4 linked regions of the Homo sapiens genome follow. The protein of the gene in region 1 purifies or fractionates together with the protein of each later gene. This does not show direct contact. Each region holds a gene or a part of one and is shown in the gene's direction. Other genes may lie near its edges. The genes, in order: DDAH1, ADA, NENF and PGLS.

Region 1 (6,092 bases):
ATTAGAAGTAATAAGTAATGCACGAGATAACAGAATCAAAACTAGACAAATTAGAAATAAGTAAATAACATTTAACAGGGATAACTACAAAATTAGATTTTAAAAGAACAGGTACCCAATTTCAGTATGGAAAGACATGGCTAACATCAGGTTTTAATTGGCTGCTAGACTGACATGAGCCCAGAGTGGTACACAGAACCCTGTTCATAGTTAGACTCAGGGCACTGAGTGGTAGGTGAAATATTCAGGCTCCAACAAGGCACAGGCATGAATGAAGATTGCTAGATGGTGGCCAGCTAGAGACAGATGGAGCCTCAATGTCTGGTAAAGTCTGCAGTAAAGAGCAGAATGAAGTCCTATACTTTATTTAACCCGGGAGCTAAACAAATAAACAATATATAATAAGAATAAATAGGCTGGGTGCAGTGGCTCACGCCTGTAATCCCAGCACGTTGGGAGGCCGAGGCAGGCGGATCACCTCAGTTGAGGAGTTTGAGACTAGCCTGACCAACATGGAGAAACTCCGTCTCTACTAAAAATACAAAATTAGCCAGGCGTGGTGGCACATGCCTATAATCCCAGCTACTCGGGAGGCCGAGGCAGGAGAATCACTTGAACCCCGGTTGCAGAGGTTGCAGTGAGCTGAGATCGCGCCATTGCACTCCAGCCTGGGAAACAAGAGCGAAACTCCATCTCAAAAAAAAAAAAAAAAAAAAAAGAATAAATAATGAACTAATTTAAAAATAAATAAATTTTATATTTAACCAGGGCAAGCTTAAGGTAAAAGATCAACTTTCACCTGTAACTTTGATGGAAATCCTCCATCTGAGGACACCATTAAGTGATTTCTGACGCTAAACTGGGGCTAATGGGGCTGCCTGGATCCCCTAAGAATTTTGCTTTAGAAGTACTACCTAGTCGGTCTTAAAGGTTTGTTATTTTACTTTTGGTCCCACTTCCCAATGTCAGTGTCAGAGCTGTCCTTGAGACTCCTCAAATTTGGGCAGGGCGTGGTAGCTCATGCCTGTAATCCCAGCACTTTGGGAGGTGGAGGCGGGTGGATCACCTGAGGTCAGGAGTTCGAGACCAGCCTAGCCAACATGGTGAAACCCTGTCTCTGCTAAAAATACAAATTAGCCGCGAGTGGTGGCGTGCACCTGTAGTCCCAGCTACTCAGGAGGCTGAGGCAGGAGAATTGCTTGAACTGGGGAGGCAGCAGTTGAAGTAAGCCGAGATCGTGCCACTGCACTCCAGCCTGGGCAACAAGAGTGAAACTCCGTCAAAACAAAACAACAACAAAAAACAAAAAAAACTCCTCAAATGTGAAGCTGAGAATTTTGAAGCTCATTTATAAATTCACACCACCCTTGTGGGAGGGGAGAGAAGGCAGATCACATCTCTGGGCTCAGTTGGGGCAACCATTCTAGGATGCTCAGAGAGACCTGCTCCTAGAAATCCAGAGTTTCCTAAAAGCTGGGATCAGAGTTCTGGCAAGAAGGCTGTAGCCTGGGCCTTGGCCCTAGACCACCAAAAAAGTGAATACAGGCTTAGGCAGTGTTCATAGAGGCCCAGCATCTGGAACAAGGGTGCTGCTGTAGTCTGTGCTGGTCAGACCACACAGGAAGAATTGTTTATTTTCCGGATACTATGATTTTAAAAGGATACAAGCAAATTGGTGTGTATCAAAAGGAAGCTGACCAGAATGTTGAAGGGACTTGGAAACCAAATCACTAGTTACTTTTCAGTGGTTTGGGCTCCAGGACTGGAGGGGGTTTAGGGTGGGGGGTAGAGGATGGTGTTAGGCAGCATAGATAATTAGAACTGTTTTCAGATATGCAAATGCTGTTTTGTGAAAACACACACACACGCGAACACACACAAAACAAGAAAAACTTGTACTTTAGGTAAGGCCAGAAAACAGAACTGGGACCCGTGGGATTTAAGCTCAACATGAAGAATCTGTAAACCATTATAGCTCTTCAAAAGTGGGCTAGACTTTGTAAGCACGCAAGGTTTAAACTGTTCAGGTAAAGACCAGGAAGCCCTCCAGCTGCTCTGTCCAGACCGAGGCCGGCTCTCCAAGTCCGCGCTGGGGACGATGGGAGGTGTGCACCTGCGACAGAACACAGGTACCGCCAGGTCCGGGTAGCGGTGGCTTTTCGCCGAGGTCCCCCGCCTCCGCATACTTCTTGCCCTCGCTGCTTCCCCGGCCGCCTCTCCTGGCCCCACTCCTCGCCCGGCGCTCGCCGCTACAACTCCCGCCTGGGCTGGCGCGAGACCCGCGAGCGCCGGAGTGGGCGCGCGGGATGCGCGCGGGCCGGCGCCCGGAGCTCTGGGCATGCTCAGTCGCGCGGGCAGGGCTCCGGGCGCGAGCTGGGCTCCTTCTGCACCACATTCAGCGGCTGCCAAGAGGAGCCGACGGGCGCTCGCAGGCTCAGCGCGCGCTGCCCGCGGCAGGACCCGGCCGCCTCCGCCGCCGCCGCCGCCCCTAAGCCTCCCGAAGCCATGGCCGGGCTCGGCCACCCCGCCGCCTTCGGCCGGGCCACCCACGCCGTGGTGCGGGCGCTACCCGAGTCGCTCGGCCAGCACGCGCTGAGAAGCGCCAAGGGCGAGGAGGTGGACGTCGCCCGCGCGGAACGGCAGCACCAGCTCTACGTGGGCGTGCTGGGCAGCAAGCTGGGGCTGCAGGTGGTGGAGCTGCCGGCCGACGAGAGCCTTCCGGACTGCGTCTTCGTGGAGGACGTGGCCGTGGTGTGCGAGGAGACGGCCCTCATCACCCGACCCGGGGCGCCGAGCCGGAGGAAGGAGGTAACTGCCGACTCGAGGGGCGCGGCCGGGGCGCGCGCCAGGCCCTCCCCCGCCGCCGGCCGCCGTGTTGCCTGGGGAGTCGCGCCATTGGCCCTCGGGCTAGTAGTTCACAACTTCCCGTCGGGGGGCGAGTGTGTGTGTGTGTGTGTGTGTCAGAGAGTCAGAGAGAAGTTCATTGTTCACACCTCCCGGCTGCCGGCAGCCTTCTGGAGGATCCGATTCAATGTGGTTGTACGGTCTCGGGCAGGTGGGTGGGCGGGGGATTCCGTCTCACGGGCATTTTTATTTGTGAAAATTAAACGGCAGCGACGACAGTGCAACTCTGAGTGTTTCCCAGGGAGCGAGGGCCGCGAGGGGTGCCGCTCCGGTAGGGCGGGTGGAGGCTGGGCGTCCCTCCAGGGGGCAGCGCCAGTCGTGACACCGAAGCCCCCAAGTCCTGCCTGGCGCTCGGAGCAGGACAAGCTGGATGAATTAACGGGGTGTCGGTGCCCACAGACCTGGGGCTTCTCAAGTTAGTTTTCAGTGGTGGCGAGTGAGTCCCAAAGAACGGGACTAGTAAGTGAATGAATGGAAGGAAAAGTGTTTTGTTGGTGAGCTGTGCTAAATGTGTGCATGAATGGGCTAGGTTTGAAAAGCTGTACTCTGTGCGGTGTTGGGTGTGTGTGCTAGCGAGCGTGTTTAATTAGAGATGGTTGTTTCACAAATTCCATAATTTTTATTCTCTATATTTTTAAACTCACAGCAATTAAGAGAGTTTTTCTGTTCTCAAGGGTTGTAACTACTTTGAAATACTGCAGCTTGTGAAATGGCTGATTGCTTTAAGTGCAATGTAGGTTAGTGGGGAGAGACAAATAGAGTGAGATTGGATTTTAAAATGCCATCTGGCCTGGGATTCTTCTCATTGCCAGTTAAGAGCCCAGGCTCAAGACTCCGTTGCTATTGGCATCCAGTGGCATTGCAAGAAGCTAGTGGTTTCTTTCATTTCTGGAGATTTAAGAATTTTTTTTCTATTTTGTCTGTATTCACTTCACATTGGAAATGCCTCATAGAGCTTATGATAAAATATGCTTATTCCTCACCTGCTCCACTACTTGGTTGATGGAATGCCACATGGTCTGAGAAAATAAGCATATTCTACTAATTTCTCATCGAGATAATCAGCTTTTATTTCACCCTCCATTAACAGAAAACCAAAAGAGTAACAGATCTCTGCTAGCCCTTTGATGTCTTTGCCACACCTCTCCATCTTTGAGTCTGTGAGATGTCCCACTCTTTTAAACTGATAAGGAATGTAATCCCATTTGAATACTTTCTAATGCGTTCTAGGCCAAATGGCAGAGCTATGGTTTGAACTTAAAAGAGCAAAATCGATTTCAAAACCCTTTCAAAATGGCACTCTTTTGATGAGAGTAGTCCAATTTCTTCTCAAGAGACTGTCACCATATTTATTCACCCATTTCATTTTATTCCTATAATAAAAGCTTCCAAGCTTTGGCCTCCCTGATACCTAAGTGAGCAGTGATCTTTTTCCCCTGCCTAGATTTTGAAGCATACATTTTAAATTGGTTTAATTCTGATATCAGCCTGGTGGCCCACTGCCAGAAGTCACATGGTGTAGTGGATAAAAACATTAGACTGAATCTCAGCTCTACCACTTTCTAATTCTGTGACCTTTAGGGAGTGTCTCTTGCCTCAGTTTTCGCATCTATACAGTGGACATAATAATACCTGTTTCACAAAGTTGTTGTAATAGATGTATTAATCTACCTGAAATTCACAGGACAGGACATTTGATGAATGTTGACTATTATTATTCACTTAACTATGGATCAGGGAAGATTTACTCCGTTAATAAGAAGTCAGCTATACACTGATGTAGTTAGTGACATCTCTCTACTATGTGATACTGCCTCTGGGTTTGGGTCTCCTGCTGGTGCCTGCCTTTGCATTGCACATGATCTGGGTCACCAGGGTAACAGGCCTCCCAGGCAGGGAGAGGAATATGGGCAGTCAGTGTTGGATGGGATGCTTCTGGAGGGCAGAGTCATGTAGGGCAATGCTTGTAGAAATCTCTCACGGCACCAGCTCACCGCCTTGGTAGGTGTTAATGCTTGTTGAGTGAGTGGATGAATGAATGAATGATGAATGAAATGCTAATACAAGAAGATAGTTACTTCAAGACCCTCTATGGATTGCTGTATATTTTTTTCATGTGATGTCTGCATTCCCAACTGTGAAAATCCACAGTAGCCAAGGAATTATTTTAAAATTATTGTCACTGATCTCTGCCTCTAGTCTTGTCAATTTTCCATTCCATTCCCACACTGTAGCCAAGCTGGTCTTTTAAAAACTCAGATCTGATCCTGTCCCTTCTCTGACTAAAATTCTCAAGGGGCCCCCACTGAGCTTAGATAAACCCATTGAGCTGGGCTGTGCTTGCCTTTCCAGCTTCAGCTTCACCTCTGATCCCACCCCAAGCATCCCCTGATCCATGGATCGAGCGAGGTTCTTTCACTGAAGCTCACCAGACTATTGCTTTTATTTTGTCCGGGTACTCTTCCTCTTTCCTCTCTTCCCTTTTATCTGTCTTAAGTTCTCAGCTTACTGTTATCACTATTATTAGCTAATATTTATTGGGTACTTGCCACTTGCCATACACCATACCAGATTTATGATGTGCATTTCATTAATACTCACATCAACTCTTTGAACTCAATACTATCATAATTCCTATTTTAAAGTTGGTGAAACTGAGGCCTGGAGAGATTAAATAAATTGGCCAGGGTTATAGAGTGTAACCTGTAAAACCAGGATTTGAACTCGGGTTTAGAGAACTCCAAAGCTCTAGTCCCACTTAGACATCACTTTTCCAAGCATGGAATTGGTTCTCCTTTTATGAGCTCCTAAAACGCTATAAACTTCCTTTTATATATATCATACCACGTGATAATTGCCTGTTTACCGTTCTGTATCTCCCACTATTATGTAACCTGTCAGGGCTAGGATCATGTCTGTATTGGTCAACATTTTGTCACCAAGGCCTTGTATACAATAGGCATGTAGCAAATATTTTGTTGAACAAGTGTTCTCATTATTTTAGATTAACCTTAATTCTCCCTCCTTATGACATATTTGGTGTTTCACAAGCATTCCCAATCAGTAAGGTCCCAAAAGTTCTATTATGAACGTAGGTGGTTTATAGCTGTTTCTTCTTCTCCCTTTCCCTGTCCCTGCCTCTTTCTATTGTTATTGTTGTTTTGTTTGTTTTTATAAAAATCTTGAGA
Region 2 (5,548 bases), on another chromosome or scaffold:
CTGAGCTGGCTGGCGGCCCACTGGGCCCCTCCCCTGAGCCTCCACCGGCCCTCTCCCAGTGCGCTGGGCTGGGCAAGCCTCTGATGTGCCAGCCAGATGGAGGGTGAAGTCCTGATGCCTGCCCCTACCCTGGGAATTGTGATGCTGCAGTTACTGCCCCTGATAACCCCTGACTGGGCATAGGACCAGCTGGCTGAGCCAGCTCCTGGGGCTGAGGAGGAAGCCATGAACTTGACCTGGCACTTTCCTTGTCTCCAAGCATCAGTCAACCAAGGATATGGAGGGGGTGTGTGCATGTGTGCACACATACACACACACACACACACACACTTCAACCTGTTTATCCCCCTTGAGATTTGCTGACTTGTGCATTGGGGGTAGAAGGTGCTGGAAAAATTCCGGTCCTGGTTCTCAGTTTCCCCATCTGTCCAGTGGGAGCAGCTGGACTGAGAGACGCCCATGTCTCCTGCTGTGGTCCTGCAAGGAGGCTGGCGCTCCTGAGTCTGCTCCATCCTGGCCTGTCAGGCCTGCCTGGATCCTGCCCCGGGTTGGTCCACCACTCACTGTTTTGTTTCCAGGAGGAGAGGGATCGCCCTCCCAGCTAACACAGCAGAGGGGCTGCTGAACGTCATTGGCATGGACAAGCCGCTCACCCTTCCAGACTTCCTGGCCAAGTTTGACTACTACATGCCTGCTATCGCGTGAGTTGCCCCCAACCCACAGGTCCTAGGGCAGCATTGATCCCTATGACTAGGACCAGGCCTGTCCCTCAGCCTGTGGGGGCCAGAGAAGTTGCTCTGAAACCACAGCTGTCTTTCTCACCATTGTGTACACTTAGTGAGTCTCTCCAGTGCCTTTAGGCCTCAGTTTTCCCTTCTGAGATGTGGGTGTGATGGACTGAAATTGCTTCAAGTTCTACAGAGAAATGGCAGAATATGGGAGCTAAGAACACAGGGTCAGAGGCAGTGCAGGGCTTGAACCCGGGCCATCTATCTCCTAGTTCAGGGCTTCGTGTTGTGAGGGGAGGAGAGGCCTGAATATAGGGTGGGGGCGGGGAGATGTGGGGAAGATTCTCCAAAAGGCTTTTTCTTTTTCTTGTCTTGAGTCGCCAGGGAACAGCACTAGGTACCGAAAAGGCCCAGAAGGGGTATGGGCGAGTACTAGAGAGAAATTTCCATGACTGCTTTATTTATTTATTTATTTATTTATTTATTTATTTATTGAGACAGAGTCTCACTCTGTTGCCCAGGCTGAAGTGCAGTGGTGCGATCTCAGCTCACTGCAACCTCCACCTCCCAGTTTAAGGGATTCTCCTGCTTTAGCCTCCCAAGTAGCTGGGATCACAGGCACCCACCATCACACCCAACTAATGGTTTTGTATTTTTAGTAGAGATGGGGTTTTACTATGTTTGCCAGGCTGGTCTCGAATTCCTGACCTCAGGTGATCTGCCCGCCTCGGCCTCCCAAAATGCTGGGATTACAGGCGTGAGCCACTGCGCCTGGCCTCCATCCTCATCCTGAAGATGCAAGAACTTCTGGTGACCCCTTCTCCTGAGAGTGGCCTGATCTCCCCTGGGCAGGGCACTTTCTTCCCACGCTGGGCTCTCCCAGCACTTGTGTGCCTTCCCTCACACATTCTAGTAACCACTTCATTTTCACTCTTCATGGTGGGAACTTCCAGCTAAGCACAGTCCACCGTTACGTGATCAACACAGTGGCCCTGGCAGGCCAATTTGTGCCTTGCTTCTGGAACAAACATGCAGTAATAACAACGAAAATGTTTTGAGCATTTGTCCGCTCTGCTCCAAGCACTGACCCGGGTGGGGTTTATGAAGTTTGACTCATTTGTCCCCGCAATAACTCCTTGACCTAGGTGTCAGAGGGTGACTAACCAGGGGTCACACAGCAGATAAGTGTGGGCACAAGGATCCAAGTCCATGACTGTATCCCACGTGTCTCCCACATCCAGGCATCCCTCTGGACTTGTCCAGCTGTGTCCTTTTCTCTCATTTCTCTTCCCTGCCAGCCTTAACTCCATCACCAACAAATATTGGGCTACTCTGTCCTAGGCATGGTCCTCAGCTGAGAGGTCGCAGCCATCCCAAGACAGAGGGGTCCTTGCCACATGGAGACTGCATTCTAGTAGGGAATACAGCAAACTGGCTGATAAGCCATATGACACACAATGTTGAGTAGTGATAAGGACCTGGGAGAAAAAGAAAGCCCAGGAGAATGGTGGAGGGGCCGTTTTAAGATAAGGCGGTCTGGGCCAGGTACAGTGGCTCACGCCTGTATCCCCAGCACTTTGGGAGGCTGAGGTGGGCGGATCATGAGGTCAGGAGATCGAGACCATCCTGGCTAACACAGCGAAACGCTGTCTCTACTAAAAATACAAAAAATTAGCCGGGCGTGGTGGCATGCGCCTGTAATCCCAGCTACTTGGGAGGCTGAGGCAGACGAATCACTTGAACCCAGGAGGCAGAGGCTGCAGTGAGCTGAGATGGCGCCACTGCACTCCAGCCTGGGCGACAGAGCAAGATTCTGTCTCAAAAAAAAAAAAAAAAGATAAGGTGGTCAGGGAAGGCCTCTCTGAGGAGGTGAAGCTTCAGCTGGCTCTAAACCAGGGGAGCGGGAGAGACGCAGTGTAGGACAGTATCGGGGAAGAGCAGGCCTGTGTCTTCTCCGGTGGCCTCAGGGAATGAGGGAGAAGGAAGGTGCTGGGGAGGCTGGCAAGGCCTGGAGGATGCAGGCCTTGTGGGCAGGACCTGGGAGTTGCGATGTCACTCTCCGTGGCAGGAAGCTACTGGGGCTTCGAGGGGAGAAGTGATATGCTTTGATTTACCTTCTTAAAAGATTGCCCCAACTGCTGGGTGGAGAACAGGATGACAGGGGCAAGCATGGAGACAGGGAGGCCAGTTAGAGATGGCGTGATTCAGGCCAGGATGGAGGGGTGAGAACTGGTATGCAGTTCCAAAGTAGAGCTGATAGGACTTGCCCAGTGTCTGGGATCTTATCCAGTGGATGCCCAGAGCTTGGGTCTGGGGGATGAAGTGGGTTTAATCTGCCAAGGGTTGGGGATGTCATTTGCTCCTGGAGCTCCCAAGGGACTTGGGGAAGGTTGTTCCCAACCCCTTTCTTCCCTTCCCAGGGGCTGCCGGGAGGCTATCAAAAGGATCGCCTATGAGTTTGTAGAGATGAAGGCCAAAGAGGGCGTGGTGTATGTGGAGGTGCGGTACAGTCCGCACCTGCTGGCCAACTCCAAAGTGGAGCCAATCCCCTGGAACCAGGCTGAGTGAGTGATGGGCCTGGAAGGGGCCATGCTGAGGGTGTGGCTGGGAGGCTCAGCTCTGAGACTGGAAGGGCGAACTGCTGGGAATCCCTGACCCAAGCAAGACCTTGTTCTTGCCCCCAGTCTGGTCCATGGCCTCAGAAAGATGGGTTTAACTCTGTCACAAGAGACGTGGTTCCCATCCTCCCTTTGCCGTTATGTTCTTACCTTGGGCACAAGTGTTTGGCTGTGTCTTGCTCTGGCCACAGGCCTGCTGTCCAGGAATGTTAACCTGCTTAGCCACCCAGGATTTCTGAGGGGTCTCCCTTGTCACTGATGCTGATCAGATCTCTAAAGGCCCTAAAGGTCCTGCTCTAACTTCATAACTGAAGTGAGTCTGGCCCATTTCTAGCCCCCTGCCTGGGCCCCCATGGATCTCTAAGTGGTATCACAAAACCACCCTGCCCCATTTTCTGAGCCATGATTCTGATACATATAGAATGTGAACATCATGGCAGGCCCAAGCTTAGCAATGCTGTCCATCTGGGGGTGGGGAGGGCCATGTTGACACCCCACACCTCCCACTAAGATCTAGGAGCACCCAGCTGCTTTAAGAGCTAGAGGGACATGCTAGGGCCTGGGGGCATCTCTGCCAGTCTTTCCTCTGAGGCAGTGGGTCAGTGGGGGAGGAGGGTCCTCCCCAAAGCCTCCTCTTCCTCCTCTGTCCCAGTCCCAGAGCTGCCCTTTAGGCCTTCCTTTTGCCTCAGGCCCATCCCTACTCCTCTCCTCACACAGAGGGGACCTCACCCCAGACGAGGTGGTGGCCCTAGTGGGCCAGGGCCTGCAGGAGGGGGAGCGAGACTTCGGGGTCAAGGCCCGGTCCATCCTGTGCTGCATGCGCCACCAGCCCAGTGAGTAGGATCACCGCCCTGCCCAGGGCCGCCCGTCTCACCCTGGCCCTGACCTCCTGGCCTAGCAGTGGGGCTGTACCTGATCTCCCCTGTGCCCCACAGCCCCATGGTGTCCCCTTGAGCCCACTGGCATGAACTTGGGGCTTCATGAAACAACTGGAGACCTCCTAGGCAGGCTCAGAACTTCTGGAGATGTTCTCCCCAGGGACACCATGCCTTTATAGCCACCCTGCAGGAAGCTCAACACCAAATAGGAACGTAACTATTGAAAAAAAAATCTAGGCTAGATTCTGATCAGCCCATAGTCCTCCCTCGAGACCCAGTGGACCAGGCCCCATCCTGTCTGGGCCTGAATAGGTCTGATTTCCAAGATTTCTGAGGGGTCTCCCTTGTCACTGACGCAGATCAGATCTCTAGAGTTTGTGCCTCATGGTGCACAGCCTCACTGTGTGATATTGGGCAGGTCACACTGCTGCTCTGGTTATGCACCAAGACACCTCAGTTGTGCACTGTCACAAGGAGATGATCACACTTACTTCATTCCTCTACCCTCAGGATTAGTAAGAACCAAAGAGCTACCTGCACGCATTTCCTCTAATCCTCGCAGCAGCCTGCAAAGCAGAACTACCATTGCTTAGTCCCATTTGACAGATGAGGAAACTGAGGTGGAGTGAGGTGCAGCCTCTTGCAAGGCACAAACCCTGGATTTGTATCCGGGGACATCTAGTTCCAAAGCCTGTGTTCATTCATTCTTTCTTAAACACTTCAGAATAACTTTATTGGTTAAGAGTACCTAATACATTAGCGAGATACTTCCCAATACTAGTGTGAGTTCTATTTTAGATGACGTGTTAAACGGTCCTCCGTTTCCTCATCTGCGCATGGGAATAAGCCTACCATGAGTGTTGTTGGAAACACCAGGTGAGAGAAGGGTCCGTGTCATTTACTGAGCTCAGGCCCCGTCCTTGGTGCTTTACACACATGGCCTCGGCAAAGCCTGGCCGTGACCCTGTGCAATAGCTGGCAGGGTTCTTTCTGAAAAGGGCGGAAACTGAGGCCATAAGCAGAGCAGTTTTCCGCAGGCCATGTGGTTAGGACATAGCAGTTAGGATTTGAAGACACTGAGCCCTGTTTTGTGCTGGCCTCCCATGGGGGGTTTGGGTGGGACAGCAGGCAGGTAGGCTGGGAGGTCTCTCCATGGTGCTGGTGACAGAGCCTGGGTGGGCATCTCGCCCACAGACTGGTCCCCCAAGGTGGTGGAGCTGTGTAAGAAGTACCAGCAGCAGACCGTGGTAGCCATTGACCTGGCTGGAGATGAGACCATCCCAGGAAGCAGCCTCTTGCCTGGACATGTCCAGGCCTACCAGGT
Region 3 (5,548 bases), about 130 Mb from region 1:
GTATTCAAGTTTTCAATAAGGAAGAATTGCCCTAGGAAGGGCAAAGGCTTAGAATCAGACAGGTATGAGTCTGAATCCTGACTTTTTATTTACCAGCAGAGAAACCATTGACAGGTTATGTAAACTCTAAGCCTCAGTTTCTTCACCTACAAAATGGGTATAGTAATAACTGCCTTACAAGATTATTTTATTTTAGTTTAGTTTTTGAGACAAAGTCTCACTCTGTCACCCAGGCTGGAGTGCAGTGGCTGATTTTGTTTTGTTTTGCGTGTGTGTGTCTGTATTTTTTTTTTTTTTTTTTTGGAGACAGAGTCTTGCTCTGTCATCAAAGCTGGAGTGCAGTAGTGTGATCTTGGCTCACTGCAACCTCCGCCTCCCGGGTTCAAGCAATTCTGCCTCAGCCTCCCCAGTAGCTGGGATTACAGGCACCTGCCACCACACCCGGCTAATTTTTGTATTTTTAGTAGAGACAGGTTTTCACCATGTTGGCCAGGCTGGTCTCAAACTCCTGACCTCAAGTCATCTGCCCACCTCAGCCTCCCAAAGTGCTGGGAGCCACCATGCCTGGCTGTTTCTGTGTCACTTCTATTCCTGTGTCTGCATTTATACTCCCAAGCCTTCCACCCACCCTCCACCTTCTCAGTTGTCATTTCCCAGGCCTGAGAGTCTGTGCCTGGGGGTTGTGCTATCCATGGATGTTCATCTACACTGGGTCAGAACTCACCACCACAGCACGCTCTGTTTACTGATAAGACCATTCCTCTGCATGGCATATGAGGTATCTATGTCACTCTGAGGCCTCAAAAATGCTAAACATTCTTTTCTTCCCCTATAATATGACTTCCTCTTCGCACTTACACCTTCAAGTAAGTAGTTTAAGGAGGAGATAAAAATTTTACTGTTAAAAAAAGGAGATTGCTGGGTGCAGTGGCTCACGCCTGTAATCCCAGCACTTTGGGAGGCCGAGGCGGGTAGATCACCTCACGTTGGGAGTTCAAGACCAGCCTGACCAACATGGAGAAACCCCATCTCTACTAAAAATACAAAAAAAAAAAAAATTAGCCAAGCATGGTGGCACACGTCTGTAATCCCAGCTACTCGGGACACTGAGGCAGGAGAAATGCTTGAACCCGGGAGGCGGAGGTTGCGATGAGCCAAGATCATGACATTGCACTCCAGCCTGGGCAACAAGAGTGAAACTCCTTCTCATAAAAAAAAAAGATTGTTTGCCGGGCGTGTTGCCTCATGCCTATAATCCCAACACATTGAGAGGTCAAGGCAGGCAGATTACCTGAGGTCAGGAGTTCTAGACCAGCCTGGCCAACATGGTGAAACCTGTCTCTACTAAATATACAAAAAAAAAAAAAAAAAAAAAATTGGCCAGGCGTGGTGACACACGTCTGTAATCCCAGCTACCCTGGAGGCTGAGGCAGGAGAATAGCTTGAACCTGGGAGGCAGAGGTTGCAGTGAGCCGAGATTGTGCCACTGCACTCCAGCCTGGGCAACCGAGCTAGACTCCGTCCCCCCCCCACAAAAAAAGAAAAGAGTGTTAGTGATAAGATGCATGTTTTTGTTTATCTTATGTATGTGAATGTTATATTTATATGGCTGTTTGCCCATAGAAAATAAGTGTCGGCTGGGCATGGTGGCTTATGCCTGTAATCCCAGCCCTTTGGGAGGCCGAGGCGGGCAGATCACTTGAGGTTAGGAGTTTGAGACCAGCCTGGCCAACATGGTGAAACCCTGTCTCTGCTAAAAATACAAAAATTATCTGGGTATGGTGGCGTGTGCCTGTAATCCCAGCTACTCAGGAGACTGAGGCAGGAGAATCGCTTGAACTGGGGAGGTGGAGGTTGCAGTGAGCCGATATTGTACCACTGCACTCCAGTCTGGGTGACAGAGTAAGACTCTGTCTCAAAAAAAAAAAAAAAGGAAAAAGAAAAGAAGTATCAAGGAGAAAGCCACAGAATGGAAGATATGACAAAATACTGGGGTTAAATGATAGCTGTAATATATTTTTAAAATTGATATAAATACATAATCCCACTTGATAAATAATCAAAGCTGAGGAATAAGGAAACCTGGTAAAGGAAAGGCGGTAAATCATCACAAAGAAAAATGCCGTCTGCTGGCTTGGAAATCCAGGCCGTTTCAAATGACCCGTGTTAGATGAGGTGGAGCAAGTGTCCACAGAGTCAATGGCAGTCCTCTAGGGCCTGTCTTTAGGAGCCGGTTTGGAGTAATAAAAGGCAGCCCTCTGCTGAGCTCCTGTGTCGTGCCTGCTAGGTATTACGTACACTCTTTTCCTCAGCATTCCCGAGGCAAGTGGGCGTTACCCTCATATGACAGGCAGAGAAGCAGGCCTGAGTGGTTATGAGGCAGTGAGGTGTGTTTCCTTGGGCAAGTTGCTTAGCTTCTCTGAGCCTCAGTAGCTCCTCTGTCTGTTAAATGGGATCATGAAAACCCTTCACCATAAGCTGCACAAGCGCAAGAACACTAAGGCCCACCCCAAAGAGAAGGCCAAGCAGCAGGTGCTTGCAGAGCCTGAGATTCCTATGGACCCAGCAGCGACTCCCACCCTCGCCTGGGCTGTGAGCCACCTGGCTGATGCCCCTGCACCTCTGATGGCACTGAGACAAAGGAGAGATCTTGTCTTGGGTGTCTTGGGACTGTACCCATCGTCCCAGCCTGAGCCCAACTTGATGGAAGCTAGAAAAGTCATGCCATCCTTTTTTGTGTAATTCTTTCTTGGTGGGGAAATTCTGAGGTAACATTTTATGCCTGCTAATAGAGCCAAAAAAAAGTGTAAAGCCCATTGTTAGTAGAACGGTGGGGAAACAGCATTGCTTACATATCTCTAGCACTATAAATGTTGTTACAGGACAAACTAATAAAATATAAACAGTGATTAAGTTTTCATATACTTAGGCCCAGGAATTCCATATATTGAAATAGGGCACTTTCCTATGCATTCACTGGGTGGAGAGAAATTTTTAAATAAAGGCCTCAATGAAATAAGTCACCAAATTAGAAAGTAATTGATAGAAACATGTATTCATAATGCTGCCATTTATAGTTCTAAGGATTGGAAACCACCCAAATACCCAAAATAGAAAGCTAGCTAAACAAATAGGTAGACAATATCACTAATATAAGATGGGGCCCTACGCCGGGCATGGTGGCTCACGTCGGTAATCCCAGCACTTTGGGAGGCCTAGGTGGGTGGATCACCTGAGGTCAGGAGTTCGAGACCAGCCTGGCCAACATGATGAAACCCCATCTCTACTAAAAAGACAAAAAATTAGCGGGGCGTGGTGGCGGGTGCCTGTAATCCCAGCTACTCAGGAGGCTGAGTCAGGAGAATCACATGAACCCGGAAGGTGGAGGTTGCAGTGAGCTGACATTGCGCCATTGCACTCCAGCCTGGGCAGCATGAGTGAAACTCTGTCTCAAAAAAAAAGATGGGGCCCCATGGAGCTGTTTAAATGACAGTCATTTTGGTGGAAATGTTTATATGAGGGAATGTTACCTGTAAGAAGCAAAATATAAAATAGATTGCTCATATCAGTCACATCCGTGTATGTCTATTGATGAAGAGGAAAGGAAATTTGGACTGATAAGTAATTCATCATTTACTATTCTTTTGAATTTTCATCTCCATGAAGTTGCTTCTGTTCCTGATTTTCTTTTTTTTGAGACGGAGTCTCACTGTGTCACCCAGGCTGGGGTGCAGTGGCATGATCTTGGTTCACTACGACCTCTGCCTCCAGGGTTCAAGCAATTCTCCAGCCTCAGACTCGCGAGCAGCTGGGATTACAGGCATGTGCCACCATGCCCGGCTAATTTTTGTATTTTTAGTAGAGATAGGGTTTCACCATATTGGCCAGGCTGGTCTTGAACCCCTGACCTCAGGTGATCCGCCCGCCTTGGCCTCCCACAGTGCTGGGATTACAGGCGTGAGTCACTGTGCCTGGCCCCTGATTTTCTCTATAAAGGAGAGAATTGCCACATTCTTGTCATGAGACTTTATGACTTTTCCAAATTTCTGTGTGCGGGCATGACGCTGCCCAGGCAGGTGGCAAGCTCGCCAAGGACCAGGCTTAACAGAAAGCCTTTGGGACTTGACCCACTGCTCTTTGCTCAGCTTGTGATGGGAGAAGATTTTACTAAGTTGCACTGGAAGAGCTGGCTCTTCCCTTCCTCTTCACAGCTTCTCCCCTGCTTTCTAGGAAGATCAGCCCATCTACTTGGCAGTGAAGGGAGTGGTGTTTGATGTCACCTCCGGAAAGGGTAAGTGGTGTGGCATTTTGAATCTTCATTTCCAGGGAGCACAGAAGCCAGAGTGAGCAGCACTTGGAGGTGTGAGGAAAGGGAGGGAACATTAGGCAAGTCCTTTTCATTCCATTTTATTTTATTTTATTTTTTGAGACGGAGTTTCACTCTGTCACCCAGGCTGGAGTGCGGTGGCACGATCTTGGCTCACTGCAACCTCTGCCTTCTGGGTTCAAGCAATTCTCTGCCTCAGCCTCCCGAGTAGCTGGGATTACAGGCACCACCACCACCGCTGGCTAATTTTTTTGTATTTTTAGTAGAGACGGGGTTTCACCATCTTGGCAAGGCTGGTCTTGAACTTCTGACCTTGTGATCCACCCGCTTCGGCCTCCCAAAGTGCTAGTATTACAGGTGTGAGCCACCACACCTGGCCTTCCTTCCATTTTAAATGAGCAGATTGAGTTAATCTTTGTCAGTGTTTTACTTCAGCAGGGGCTTTTTTCCCCTGATAATGACATGCTTCTACTCAAAAGCCTTTCATGACTTTCCATTGCCTGTAGAATTAAATTCAAACTTAATGATTTACCCTAGTTGAAGCAATGAGAGAAGTGTTCTTTAGTAAAGAGTTGGCATTATAGAACATTACAGAACATTTTAGTGCCATTTAATGTAACTACTAATGATATCTTGGAGATAGTTTTGTATTGGTTTATCTATTATTTGATAACAAACACTGCTGAATGGGAATAGATTTGGCTTCCACCAACATTTAAGAAGAGGGAACATTTTTCTTGTTTGCATCTTTAATTTTTTTTTTGGAGACAGTCTCGCTCTGTCGCCCAGGTTAGAGTGCAGTGATGCGACCTTCTCCAGCTGCCAGGTTCAAACGATTCTCCTGCCTCAGCCTCCTGAGTAACTGGAATTACAGGTGCACGCCACCATGCCCAGATTTTTGTATTTTTAGTAGAGATGGGGTTTCACCATGTTAACCAGGCTGATCTTGAACTCCTGACCTCAAATGATCTGCCCATCTTGGCTTCTCAGAGTGCTGGGATTACAGGCGTGAGTCACCGCACCCAGCCTGCATCTCTAATATTTTTAAGAGACTATTTTCTCAGTATTAACACTTAGGTGAAAAAACAGAACGAGAAGGGGGCTAGGCACAGTGGCTTATGCTTGTAATCCCAGCGCTTTAGGAGGCCAAGGTGGGCAGATCATGTGAGCTCAGGAGTTCAAGACTAGCCTGGGCAACATGGTGAAACCCCATCTCTTCAA
Region 4 (5,548 bases), on another chromosome or scaffold:
CGGTGGCTCACGCTTGTAATCCCAGCACTTTGGGAGGCTGAGGCGGGCGGATCACGAGGTCAGGAGTTTGAGACCAACCTGACCAACATGGTGAAACCTGTCTCTACTAAAAATGCAAAAATTAGCCAGGTGTGGTGGTGCGCACCTGTAATCCCAGCTACTCGGGAGGCTGAGGCAGGAGTGAGGCATGATCAGTGAACCGAGATCATGCCATTACACTCCACCCTGGGCGACAGAGTGAGACTGTCTTAAAGATAAAAAAAAAAAAAAGCAGGTTTTTGGCCGGGCGTGGTGGCTCATACCTGTAATCTCAGCACTTTGGGAGGCCAAGGATGGTGGATCACCTGAGGTCAGGTGTTGGAGACCAGCCTAGCCAACATGGCAAGACCCCATCTCTACTAAAAATACAAAAATTAGCTGGGTGTGGTGGCGTGTGCCTGTAATCCCGGCTACAGGGGAGGCTGAAGCACGAGAATCGCTTGAATGTGGGAGGCAGAGGTTGCAGTGAGCTGAGATCATGCCACTGCACTCCAGCCTGGGCGACAGTTGAGACTCTGTCTCAAAATAAATAATTGTGAAATGCTGCAGAGTGCTAGGGAATAGGGAGTGAGCATTCGTCAAGGGCTATGGGGTGGGAGGTCCTGAGAAGGTGCCATTTGAGCTGAGAGCTGGAGCATGTGCAGGAGCTGGCCATGGTCAAGCTGTGGCAAGAGGGCTCAGCTAAGGCCAAAGCCGTGTGATGGGAGCAAACCTGAAGCCAGGACTTGCTCCTTCTGCCGGTTCTCTGTGAGGGGAATCATATCGGTTCCCTAGGGCTACATAACGAATGACCACAAACTGAGCGGCTTAAAGCCACAGGAATTTATTCTCTCACCGTTCTGGAGGCCAGAAGTCTGAAATCAAGGTGTTGGTGGGGTCACGCCCCATCTGAAAGCTCTTTGGGAGGATCCTTCATTTTCTCCTCATCTTCTGGGGGCTCTGGGCGTTCCTTGGCTTGGGGTCACACCATTCCAATTCCTGTCTCTGTCTGCACATGGCCTTCTTGGATTCTGTGTGTCTTCTCATCTTATATAAGGACGCCAGTCATTGGATTTAGGGCCCACACTAATCCACTATGACTTGTTCTTAACTAATTACATCTGCAAAGACCCTATTTCCTTCCTTCCTTCCCTCCTTCCCTCCCTTCCTTCCCTTCCTTCCTTCCTCCCTTCCTATACTTTCTTTTCTTTTCCTTTCCTTTTCTTTCTTTTTTTGAGATAGGATCTTGTTGTGTTGCCCAGGCTGGAGTGCAGAGGCATGATCGTGGCTTACTGCAGCCTTCAGCTCCCGGGCTCTATCAATCCCCCTGCCTCAGCCTCCTCAGTAGCTGGGACTACAGGTGTGCACCACCAGGCCCAGCTAATTTTTTTTTTTGAGTTGGAGTTTCACCCTTGTTGCCCAGGCTGGAGTGCAATGGCGCGATCTCAGCTCACCACAACCTCCGCCTCCTGGGTTCAAGTGATTCTCCTGCCTCAGCCTCCCAAGTAGCTGGGATTACAGGCATTCACCACCACGCCCAGCTAATTTTATATTTTTAGTAGAGGTGGGATTTCTCCATGTTGGTCAGGCTGGTCTCGAACTCCTGACCTCAGGTGATCCGCCTGCCTTGGCCTCCCAAAGTGCTGGGATTACAGGCATGAGCCACCGTGCCAGGCCGCTAATTTTTTATTTTTGGTAAATACGAAGTTTCACTATGCTGCCCAGGCTGGTCTCAAACTCCTGGGCTCAACCGATTGTCCCACCTCAGCCTCCCAAAGTGCTGGGATTACAGCCGTGAGCCACCATGCCTGGCCATTTTCTGTTGTTTATAAGCCTCGAGTTTATGGTGTTTTGTGATAGCAGGCTGCATAGATTAACACAGGGACCTTGGACAAAGCAGAGTGGTCTTTCCAACTATGGATACGATTGTGTCCCTCCCCAGCTCACACACCCTCCTTGGCTCCCCAATGCCCTCAGTGTGGAGCTCATACTCCTCAGGTCAGCATTCAGGGCAGTCAGCCCCTGCGTTTACTTCGTGGCTCACCTTAGCATTGCCTCAGCTCACTGAGCTAGACTCTGCACAAACACGAGGCACCGAGACATGGACGCCATCTCAGAGCAGACCAGGGCCCCTGGGGCGCCTCTCAGTGGGATAGGGCTGCAGCTTTCTCCTTGATCCAAGTGCTTTTGAGTTAAATCTGCTGCCAACGACTCCACCATTCACAGGCCAGGGCATCTACTGTGCGCTAGCCACAGGTGCTGGGCCTGGGCAAGCCTGGCCCCCACTCCCTGTAGTGGGGCAGGTGCAGGCGGGGGTGGCTGCTCGGAGGAGGTGGCCTGAGGGATGTATATGAGTTTCCCAGGCAGCCTTAGGAGGGAGGGTGGGGATGGAGAAGGTTACCCTTCTCCATGGAGGGTGGTGAGGGGCTGAGTTTTATCCCAAGGGCCGTGGGACCCTGGAGGCTTTGAAACAGGACAATGGGCTGGCTAGACAGGTGCAGGCTATGGCCAGGAAACCCCCCAAATACAACGGAATTGAAAGACTCCTGTTGGAATGCTGGCCCCCGCAGGAACCACCATGATCCCGATTCACCCAGGAGGGCCACCCTCCCGTCCAGCCCCCCAAGAGCAGCAGGGCTCCCTCTTGCCCTTGAACCTCCTCTGCCCTGACAGGCGGCGTCACCCAGGGCTCAGGATCCTGGCTTCCAGCATTCCAGAGGTGACTCACCAACCAAAGTGTCACTCACCAACCGAAGGACCTTGCACAAATGCACCAGCCTCCCCATGCCTCAGTCTCCCCATCTGTAAATGAGTGTTATGACGGTACTGTCATAAACTCCCTGGAGGATCCAGGTGGTCACGTTACTGTTGGTGACATTGTCCCTCTGTTGGCTGCAGACGCATCTTCTCTCCAGACTGCCGATCCCAGAAAGCCAGGTGATCACCATTAACCCCGAGCTGCCTGTGGAGGAGGCGGCTGAGGACTACGCCAAGAAGCTGAGACAGGTGAGCCCCGAGGAGCGGCCGCAAGGGAGTCACATCCACGAAGCGGCCACACCCCGGGCAACAGAGCGGCCTTCTGATTGTCACCAGCAGGAACTGCCCCAGGGATCACTGGCAGATCCCTTTGAGGAATCCCCTCTTCGAGGCCACAGCCCTGCCCTGGGGAGCCTGAAGGCCACTCGGCCTCTGTTGCCCAGGTAACAGGCCTGGGTCCTCACATCTTGGGGAAATATGATGGGTATGGCTATGGCTTTGATCACAGGCTACATTGAGCACTGTTTCCTGCGTTACAGCTACTTGTATTTCTTTTTTTTTTTTTTTCTTTGAGACGGAGTCTCACTCTGTCGCCCAGGCTGGAGTGCAGTGGCGTGATCATGGCTCACTGCAAGCTCCGCCTCCCGGGTTCACACCATTCTCCTGCCTCAGCCTCCTGAGTAGCTGGGACTACGGGTGCCCGCCACCACGCCTGGTTAATTTTTTTGTATTTTTTTAGTAGAGACGGGGTTTCACCATGTTAGCCAGGATGGTCTCGATCTCCTGACCTCGTGATCCGCCCACCTTGGCCTCCAAAGTGCTGGGATTATAGGCGTGAGCCACCATGGGCCTTTTTTTTTTTTGAGATGGAGTCTTACTCTGTCACTCTGTCACCTAGGCTGGAGTGCAGTGATGCAATCTCAGCTCACTGCAACCTCTGCCTCCCGGGCTCAAGTGATTATCCTACCTCAGCCTCCCAAGTAGCTAGGACTACAGGTGCCTGCCACCACGCCTGGCTAATTTTTGTATTTTTAGTAGAGACAGGGTTTCATCATGTTGGCCAGGCTGGTCTTGAACTCCTGACCTCGTGATCCACCTACCTCGGCCTCCCAAAGTGCTGGGATTTCAGGTGTGAGCCACCATGCCCAGCCACAGCTACTTGTATTTTTTTATCTGACAACTGTTTCTGTGTCCTCTGAGTCTCCCCTGCCCCTGCCACCTACAACCTCTCAAGGCTGTCTTCTCCCCACGCCCAGGCATTCCAAGGGGACTCCATCCCGGTTTTCGACCTGCTGATCCTGGGGGTGGGCCCCGATGGTCACACCTGCTCACTCTTCCCAGACCACCCCCTCCTACAGGTGAGCACACCAATGCGGGGTTCCACCCTAGTCCTGAGCCCAGTCCCTAACATCTGGGACTTCCAGAGGGAGAGCCACCTGCCGGGTGGGGTGTCTAGAGCCAGGGTTCAAGTCAGCCTCCACCAACATACCTGCCTGCTGGGCTCAATCCTTTCAGGTCTCAGTTGAGCCCCTTAAAACAGGGACCTTAAACTACCCACCATGGGATTGTTAGTAGGATGGGATGGAACAGTGGCTGGACCAGGCCTGGTGTGTGTAAGTGTCCAAGAAGCTGAAGTGACATTGTCCTTCTGCCTCCATCCCTGGGCTTCCTCCCCAAGGAGCGGGAGAAGATTGTGGCTCCCATCAGTGACTCCCCGAAGCCACCGCCACAGCGTGTGACCCTCACACTACCTGTCCTGAATGCAGCACGAACTGTCATCTTTGTGGCAACTGGAGAAGGCAAGGCAGCTGTTCTGAAGGTAACAGCTGAGGGTTCTAGTCCTGGGAAGTTCATGGGCATGTGGGCCCCAGGGACAGAAAATGGCCCCAGACATTATTGTGCTGAAGCATCAGATCTGAAGAAAACTCAGTCATTCTTGGGTTGAAAGGTAACTTGAAATTGCAATTAGAAAAAAAGGAAAAAAAAAAAAAAAACCCCAGAAAATTGCAATTAAAGGCTAGTTAGGTATTAACCGCTATGAAATGAAATTGATGAGATGAGGCCAAAGCTGCATTCAGAGGTAAATTAATAGCATTCAAATGCATTTAAAAAAAATTATTAAGTAGCAAACTATTGAAATAAATCAAGTGCTTTCCTGTAGAATTAGAAAAAGGACAATAATATAAATCTACAAAAGTCAGTGGCAGGACTAAGTGAAATTAAAGTCAGAAATTAATGAGTTGGTTAATATATTTTAAACTTTAATGGTAAGTAGATCTAAAAGATAGAAAAGCTCCTGACAAGGCTAATCAAGAGAAAAAAAAATCACGTGGTATTATGAATAAAAAAAGGTACTGTTATGTAAAGTATTTTAGGAAAATACAAATTCATTACAGCATTAAAAATAAACTAAATAATTAAAAAGGTTTTAGTTGCCTTCATTGAAAAGACCAACAACTACAGAAGAAACTGGAAATATATTTTTATTTTTTTTTTGTTTTTTGTGTTATTGTTGTTGAGACAGAGTCTCCCTCTGTCGCCAAGGCTGGAGTGCACTGATGTGACCTCAGCTCGCTACAATCTCTACCTCCCAGGTTCAAGCGGTTCTCCTGCCTCAGCCTCTTGACTAGCTGGGATTATAGGCGCCTGCCACCAGGCCTGGCTAATTTTTGTATTTTTAGTAGAGAGGGGGTTTCACCATGTTGGCCAGGCTGGTCTCAAACTGCTGACCTCATGTGATCCACCTGCCTTGGCCTCCCAAAGTGCTGGGATT

The links.
Region 2: the proteins of DDAH1 (region 1) and ADA fractionate together in Homo sapiens (co-fractionation; one large-scale study listed by BioGRID). This does not show direct contact.
Region 3: the proteins of DDAH1 (region 1) and NENF fractionate together in Homo sapiens (co-fractionation; one large-scale study listed by BioGRID). This does not show direct contact.
Region 4: the proteins of DDAH1 (region 1) and PGLS fractionate together in Homo sapiens (co-fractionation; one large-scale study listed by BioGRID). This does not show direct contact.

Annotation. Positions count from the first base shown.
Region 1 is NC_000001.11:85,461,459-85,467,550, reverse strand, and holds the start of DDAH1 (N(G),N(G)-dimethylarginine dimethylaminohydrolase 1), read left to right. Parts: upstream 1-2,391; 5' UTR 2,392-2,505; coding exon 2,506-2,808; intron 2,809-2,951; exon of another isoform or gene 2,952-3,031; coding exon of another isoform or gene 3,032-3,055; intron 3,056-6,092. UniProt on the Homo sapiens protein: Hydrolyzes N(G),N(G)-dimethyl-L-arginine (ADMA) and N(G)-monomethyl-L-arginine (MMA) which act as inhibitors of NOS. Has therefore a role in the regulation of nitric oxide generation.
Region 2 is NC_000020.11:44,624,200-44,629,747, reverse strand, and holds part of ADA (adenosine deaminase), read left to right. Parts: intron 1-578; coding exon 579-701; intron 702-3,148; coding exon 3,149-3,292; intron 3,293-4,063; coding exon 4,064-4,179; intron 4,180-5,418; coding exon 5,419-5,546; intron 5,547-5,548.
Region 3 is NC_000001.11:212,438,335-212,443,882, forward strand, and holds part of NENF (neudesin precursor), read left to right. Parts: intron 1-4,230; coding exon 4,231-4,291; intron 4,292-5,548. UniProt on the Homo sapiens protein: Acts as a neurotrophic factor in postnatal mature neurons enhancing neuronal survival. Promotes cell proliferation and neurogenesis in undifferentiated neural progenitor cells at the embryonic stage and inhibits differentiation of astrocytes.
Region 4 is NC_000019.10:17,513,257-17,518,804, forward strand, and holds part of PGLS (6-phosphogluconolactonase), read left to right. Parts: intron 1-2,916; coding exon 2,917-3,024; intron 3,025-4,031; coding exon 4,032-4,133; intron 4,134-4,453; coding exon 4,454-4,594; intron 4,595-5,548. UniProt on the Homo sapiens protein: Hydrolysis of 6-phosphogluconolactone to 6-phosphogluconate.